Linked DNA regions of Homo sapiens. The protein of the gene in region 2 binds, or shares a complex with, the protein of the main gene of each other region. Each region holds a gene or a part of one and is shown on either strand. Other genes may lie near its edges.

Region 1 (3,296 bases), on a different chromosome or scaffold from region 2:
TCGCTTTAACCCAGGAGGCAGAGGTTGCAGTGAGCTGAGATCAGGCCACAGCACTCAAGCCTAAGTGACAGAGTGAGACTCTGTCTCACAAAACAAAAAACAACAAAAAAGATGCATACAGGTGCCAAGCTGACTAGGAATGGACTGTGAACGTTAGTTTTATGCATCAACTTGGCTAGGACACATTGCCTAGTTATTAAAACATGAATCCAGGTACTGCTGTGGATGTATTCTGGAGATGTACTTAACATTTATAATCCCTTAAATTTAAGTAAAAGAGATAATCCTCCATAATGTGGGTGAGACTCATCCAATCAACTGAAAGGCTTTAAGAGCAAAACTGAAGTTTCCAAGAGGACGAACTTCTGCTCTGAAACTGCAGCCTCAGCTCCTACCTGAGACTTTTCAGTCTTCTGGCCCGTCCAACAGATGTTAGACTTGCCAGTCCCCGCAATAGTATAAGCCATTTCCTTGAAATAAATACACATATGTCCAACCGGTTCTGCTTCTTTGGAGAGCCCTGAGACAACTTTCTTCCCCAAATATCCCATTTTATTGTTTGTTGAAATATTTTATTTCTAATTTTATTATTTTTGAACAGTTAAAAACTCAAAGTACAATGAAGTTTACAATGAAAAGGCTCACTCCTGGGATCCTTATCCCCCAGGTATCTAGTTCTGCTCCTTGGAGACTACCAATGTGATCAGGTTCTTCCATATATGTCTTCAGAGACAGTCTACCATATACAAACAAATAGGAATACATACACATTTTTTCTTCTTATACATCAATTGTAGCATGCCATACAGTTTGACACCATGCTTTTCTCAATAAACATTATTATGCCTTAGAGATCTTTTCATCTCAGTACCTAAAGCACTTCTTCATTCCTTTTTCCATTGGGCAAATTAGTTTCACCAATCCTCTGTAATTTATTATCTAAAGTGAGACATTGAGAATGAAAGCACTATTAATAATTATCCAAGAACAGCAGGTATAAACTGGTAGTGTTCAAAAAGCCAAAGCATATGGTTATCCTACCTATGGCAGATATTTAGGTTGCTTCCAATTCTTTGACATTACCAAGTTGCAAAGAATATACTTGTAAATACATACTTTTGCACATCTATGTGCTTTGTTTGGTAGGATAAATTTCTAGAAGTGGAATTGCAGGGCAAAAGGTTATGTATATGAATTTAAAAGTTTCACAGACTGCCAATTGCTGTACATAAAGAGTATAACAAGTCACACTTCCCTAGCAGGCATAGAGAATGCCTGCCCTACTTATTGAATAATCCTTTTCCCATTGTGATCCCGTCTTTATAACAATGTTTTAAGCCCTCACATGTATGTACTGAAGTCTTTTTTCTGGGTGAGTACATACCATTGATATCTAGTTGTGCATTCAGTTCTGTACTACCTTTCAAAAACAGTTAATCTAGGTTTACATTACCCTTTCAAAAATTTCTTAGCAATTTTCACCACCTTATTTTTCCAGATGAACTATGGGATAGTTTATCTATTATACCCCCTCAGAAATTTTAACAGTGGCAGCATTCAACATGTAAAGGTTAAGTAGCTCCATTTGTTATCATTTCTTTTTCTAGGATTTTTAGATATACAATTATTATCTGCAAATAGAAATCTGGCCACCTCATTTCTAAAAGACATTGTTTCATGCACCATTGCACTGGCAAAAATTTCCTGAACGATATTAAATAATCCAGATAATGGGAATTCTGGATTTCAATGAGTACATCTAGTATTTCAATTGTAACAATTAACTACAGTCATGTGTTACGTAACAATGTGGATACATTTCGAGACATGCTTTGTTAGGTGATTTCATCATTATGTGAACATCATACTGTACTGACAGGAACCCCAGATGGTATAGCCTACTACTACACACCTAGGCTATATGGTATAGCCTACTACTACATACCTAGGCTATATGGTATAGCCTACTACACACCTAGGCTATATGGTATAGCCTACTACTATACACCTAGGCTATATGGTATAGCCTACTACTACACACCTAGGCTATATGGTATCGCCTACTACTACACACCTAGGCTATATGGTATAGCCTACTACTACACACCTAGGCTATATGGTATAGCCTACTACACACCTAGGCTATATGGTATAGCCTGCTGTTCTGACCACCCTCGTATGTGGTCCTTCACTAACTGAAACATCATTATATGGTACATGGCTGTATTTATAGCTCTTTGCAGGTAAAGCATTATATCTCTTGCCTCTATTTTATTTACAAAGGCTATTTTCTTGCCCATTTTAAGTGCCCCTAGTCTGTGGTTCTATACCATCCTATGTATAGCTTTATCATAGCACTTTCTATACCTGCTTCCTTTACTGAACTCTAAGTTCTTTAAAGTAAGGTATCACAAATTAATCTCATATTTACACTGAAGAAGGGAGGAAGGATGGAAGGAAGAAAAAGTAGCACATGGCCCGGTGCAGTGGCTCACACCTATAATCCTAGCATTTTGGGAGGCCAAAGCAGGTGGATCACTTTAAGTCAGGAGTTCAAGACCAGCCTGGCCAACATGGTGAATTCCTGTCTCTACTAAAAATACACAAATTTGCCAAGTGCGATGGTGTAAGCCTGTAATCCCAGCTACAAGGGAGAATGGGGCATGAGAACAGCTTGAACCCAGGAGGCAGAGGTTACAGTGAGGCAAGATCATGCCACCACTGCACTCCAGACTGGGCAACACAGCAAGACTCTGTCTCTTAAAAAAAAAAAGAAAGAAAGAAAAAGCAGCACAGCACCTAGCCAATTGCCTCACTGCACAATTCTAGGGATAACAATCACACATATTCTATGTGAAAGGCAACTCCCAGAGCATAGAAATATGATGAGACATGAATGGTGCTTCTTAGAATTGTGCAATGTGATAGCTCGGCTGACTGGCACACAGGTGCTCAATGCATATGTACTGAACTGATCCAGGGAAAAACTGATTGTCAAAGAGCCTAGAAAGAAATTAACTCTGAATGATAGACTGCATTCCTGAACATAAAGGGTATATTCTAGAACTGTAGTACCTCTTTCATGGAGATTAAATTAGGTTCATGCCTGAGGTTTCTTGGTTTCTTTTCTTTTTTGTTTTTGAGACGGAGTCTCTGTTGCCCAGGCTGGGGTGCAGTGGCACAATCTTGGCTGACTGCAATCTCAGGTTTCTTTTCCAGTTAACAGTTCATACTACCGTAAAACAATCTCCAAACCAATACCTACAAGAAACACTCATTATTTATTCATGTGGCTG
Region 2 (3,914 bases):
GAGGGAACAAAAATGCATATGACACAGTCTTGGTAAAAGCTTCTTTGTGGGATGCGGTAGGAGACAAACATCTGTGCAGGCAAACATTAATATGAGTTAACACCACAGAGCGAGGGGCGGTACAAGCTGGTGTGTGACTGGCGGTCCAGACAAGAGTTAGGGACCTGGTGGTGGAGGACCCTCCCCCCTCACCCCCACTGTGGGCTGAGAGTCTGGGGACTCCTCTGGCAGGAGGGAGGGCTTGGACCGGGCTGCAGGAGGCGTGTGGGGTTTGGGTAGTAGAGCATGGATGGCCGGGGCTGAGGGCTTCCTCGTGTCCTTGGTCTGAGTCCTGCTGTCCTCCTCAGACCATGCTTCCCGTGGGCTGCGTCCGCATCATCCCATACAGCAGCCAGTACGAGGAGGCCTATCGGTGCAACTTCCTGGGGCTCAGCCCGCACGTGCAGATCCCCCCCCACGTGCTCTCCTCAGGTGCGTGCCCCCGCGGGCTGTGGGGCCATGCCCTGCGCTGAGGTTCCCCACGCCTCAGGCCCAAAGTGGAACCAGATCTCTGTCATGGGTTGTGGAGAGGAGGCCTCATTGCAGGGCCAGCTTCCCCCATGGCTCTGGGCCTCCGTGTTCTATCTTCACACAGGTAGCGGTGGGTGAGTGGACCTGATGGGAAGGTTGGCTGGCAGGGACTGTCGTCAGTGGGCTGCAGGTCACCATCGTGGGGTGGGAGGATGTGTCCCTGGCCGGAGGATCCTGGTCGTCCTGGTGATTGGGTGCCTATGAGATGGAGGCCTGCTGAATGCTGGGTGTGAGCTGCCTGCTTCTGTGGGCCCTGCCATCCTCTCCTCACTCTTCTACTGTTCCCCTGTCCTGACTTCTGCTCTCCTCCAGCCTTTTTCTTCACCTCATGTGCCCGAGGTCTTCCCGGCCTTCACTGGTGTGGTCAGGGCTCAGCAAACCCCTGGTCTTTTGGTTTGGGGATGTCCAGGGATCAGCCCCCCAGGCTCATCAGTGACTTCCCCCAGCACAGCGGTGACCAGCAGCTGCTGACTCATGGTCCGAGTGGAGCTACCCTGAGCCCCCAATCAGCACCCAGGCTGGGTCCTGACTCCCTGCGAGGCAGTGCCTTTTTTCCGGGTAGCATTGGAAACACAGGCTCTGGTTTCAAACAGACTTCAAATTCTTACCACTACGAGCAGGTTATTTAACGTCTCCAGGCCTGTTTCCCCATCTGTAGAATAGGGTCATGGTGAGACCACCCTCATAGGGCTGCTTAGCCAGAGGTAAATTGATGTATATAAAGTACTTTGTGATTATTGTAATATAATAAATTATTAGTTTAACTGAGGCAAAAGTTAACCCTTAACTATTCACGAATAACCTGAAAGGTTTTAAATACCAAAGCATTGATTTGGGCCAGTCTTTTCACCAGCAGCCTTCCCCACTGACCTGGGATGAGCGGAGTGGGGCCCACGGTGGGCTAGCGCAGGGGAGGTGAGGAGCATGGGGGAGATGAGGAGCCACGGGCCTTGTGTTGTTACAGAGTTTGCTGTCATCGTGGAGGTCCACGCAGCCGCACGTTCCACCCTCCACCCTGTGGGGTGTGAGGATGACCAGTCTCTCAGCAAGTACGAGTTTGTGGTGACCAGTGGGAGCCCTGTAGCTGCAGACCGAGGTGGGTGCCCCCAGGCAGAGTGTCCTTTTTGTGAGAAGATGCCCCCGCCCCGCGCTAACGCCTGCCCTTGCTCTGCCCCTGCCCTTCTCCCCAGTGGGCCCCACCATCCTGAATAAGATTGAAGCGGCTCTGACCAACCAGAACCTGTCTGTGGATGTGGTGGACCAGTGCCTCGTCTGCCTCAAGGAGGAGTGGATGAAGTAAGCAACAGTGTGGGTGAGGCCCCTTTGCTTGCGACCCTGGAGAAAACCTGGAGCTGTTTCCAAAAGAGGAGCTGGGCCGTGGCCACTGAGGGAGGAGCCGAGAGAAGAGGTTGGGGGCGGGGTTCCAACTCCACGTCCGCCACTGCAAAGCTCAGGTGGCCTCGGGAGGCGGTCATCATGTCTGCCTCCGGCTCCTGCATGGGGAGGTGGGGGTGGCGCCTGCCTTGGAGAGCGACTGAGGCTTGGGCAAGGGCTCCAAGCTCACAGGAGGGTTCATAATGGAAGCTCTGTCATCTGCTGTGCAATTAACTTCAAAACCTAAAAGCCCAGTAACCCATGCCCCACCCCGCTTTTTATTTTATTTTATTTTTATTTTTTATTTTTTTTGAGTCAGAGTTTGGCTCTTGTTGCCCAGGCTGGAGTGCAATGGCATGATCTTGGCTCACCACAACCTCCGCCTCCCGGGTTCAAGCGATTCTTCTGCCTCAGCCTCTGGAGTAGCTGGGATTACAGGCACCCACCACCATGCCTGGCTAATATTTGTATTTTTAGTAGAGACAGGGTTTTAGCATGTTGGCCAGGCTGGTCTTGAACTCCTGACTTCGTGATCCGCCCACCTTGGCCTCCCAAAGTGCTGGGATTACAGGCGTGAGCCACTGCACCTGGCCCCCCGGGTTTTTTTTTTTGTAAGCAAATTTACTTTATTTCCTCCTGCCTCGATTCTTGGTAATTTTTTGGGTCAAATTTATTAATCAAACATTGTCCTGATTTAAAATCATGCAGTGAAGCTTAGGAGCAACCAGTGTCTTCCACGAGTTTAAGGAAGGTTTTTCTTTCTTCTTGGCGTCTTGACAACAGCTTGAGGGAGGGTGTGGGAAGCGCACAGGCCCCATACCCATACCCGACAGAGGGCCGAGCCCAGCCCCGACAGCTTCCCTTCCTTGCTGGGACACAGCTCCTTTCAGCAGTTCAGGGGCCAAGCCTGCTGCCCCAAGGGTGTGGATTCCAGCTCTGCCTGCACAGCTCCTGCTGGTGCCAAAGCCGTGTCACCCCTGGTTGGCCCCGTGACCAGGGCTCGAGGGATTGTGCTGTGGTGTCTGAGTGTTTTGTTTTGGTTTTCTTCAGCAAAGTGAAGGTGCTTTTTAAGTTCACCAAGGTGGACAGTCGACCCAAAGAGGACACACAGAAGCTGCTGAGCATCCTGGGTGCGTCCGAGGAGGACAATGTCAAGCTGCTGAAGTTCTGGATGACTGGCCTGAGCAAGACCTACAAGTCACACCTCATGTCCACGGTCCGCAGCCCCACAGCCTCGGAGTCTCGGAACTGACCCGTCACACACACCTGCCTAAAGACAGGGATGGCTGTCCACAGGATCCTCCAGCCCCGTGAGAGGGACTGTCCCTTGAGTTTCTCAACTGCTGGAAGGAGCTGTGTCCCAGCAAGGAAGGGAAACCATCAGGGCTGGGCTCGGCCCTGTCAGGTTTGGGGCCTGTGTGCTTCCCAGACTCTCCCTCCAGCCGTTGGAATCGCTGAAGATGGCAATGAAAGGCGGAGGGATGATGGGCTCTCTCTGTGTTCAAACTCCTTGGAGAGACGACTAGGAGGACAGCTTGCCTCCCAGGCCCCTTGTGGACTTAGACTCAAAACCCGCAGGAGAAACAGGTCCGACTCAGTATGCAGTCGCAATAACATGTCTGCTCCCGAGGTTAACATTCAAGCGTTTCTACTTTGAAATTCAGCAAGAGTTTCTGGGCCTTATGTTTGAGGGTACCTTTTGCTGCAGTTGTGAATATTCAGTACATTGCCAGCTCTTGGTCACTGAGTGATTGAGTTAGGGCTCCGCAAGAGACTTTGGGGAGTGAAGTGGATCTCTTCCTCATCTTTTGGTCCTCTGAAATGTGTGTTCTGAAGCCATGGGGCTCGTCTTCTGGGGTGTTCCCCTGCAGGTGCTGGTGAAGGTAACCTGGGGCTTAATGATGGAGTCCCTGATCATTTTTGCACAAGACAGGTTGCTGAGGGGTCGGCAAGCATCTGACTTGCCCAAT

Evidence for each region. Proteins that work in one complex are often made in the same cells at the same time.
Region 1: FLCN (region 2) and LAMTOR3 share a complex: the UniProt entries of both Homo sapiens proteins name them as parts of the lysosomal folliculin complex.

The regions. Positions count from the first base shown.
Region 1 is NC_000004.12:99,877,836-99,881,131, forward strand, and holds the end of LAMTOR3 (ragulator complex protein LAMTOR3), read right to left. Parts: 3' UTR 501-3,296; downstream 1-500. UniProt on the Homo sapiens protein: As part of the Ragulator complex it is involved in amino acid sensing and activation of mTORC1, a signaling complex promoting cell growth in response to growth factors, energy levels, and amino acids.
Region 2 is NC_000017.11:17,212,937-17,216,850, reverse strand, and holds part of FLCN (folliculin), read left to right. Parts: intron 1-347; coding exon 348-471; intron 472-1,534; coding exon 1,535-1,666; intron 1,667-1,760; coding exon 1,761-1,866; intron 1,867-2,994; coding exon 2,995-3,196; 3' UTR 3,197-3,914. UniProt on the Homo sapiens protein: Multi-functional protein, involved in both the cellular response to amino acid availability and in the regulation of glycolysis.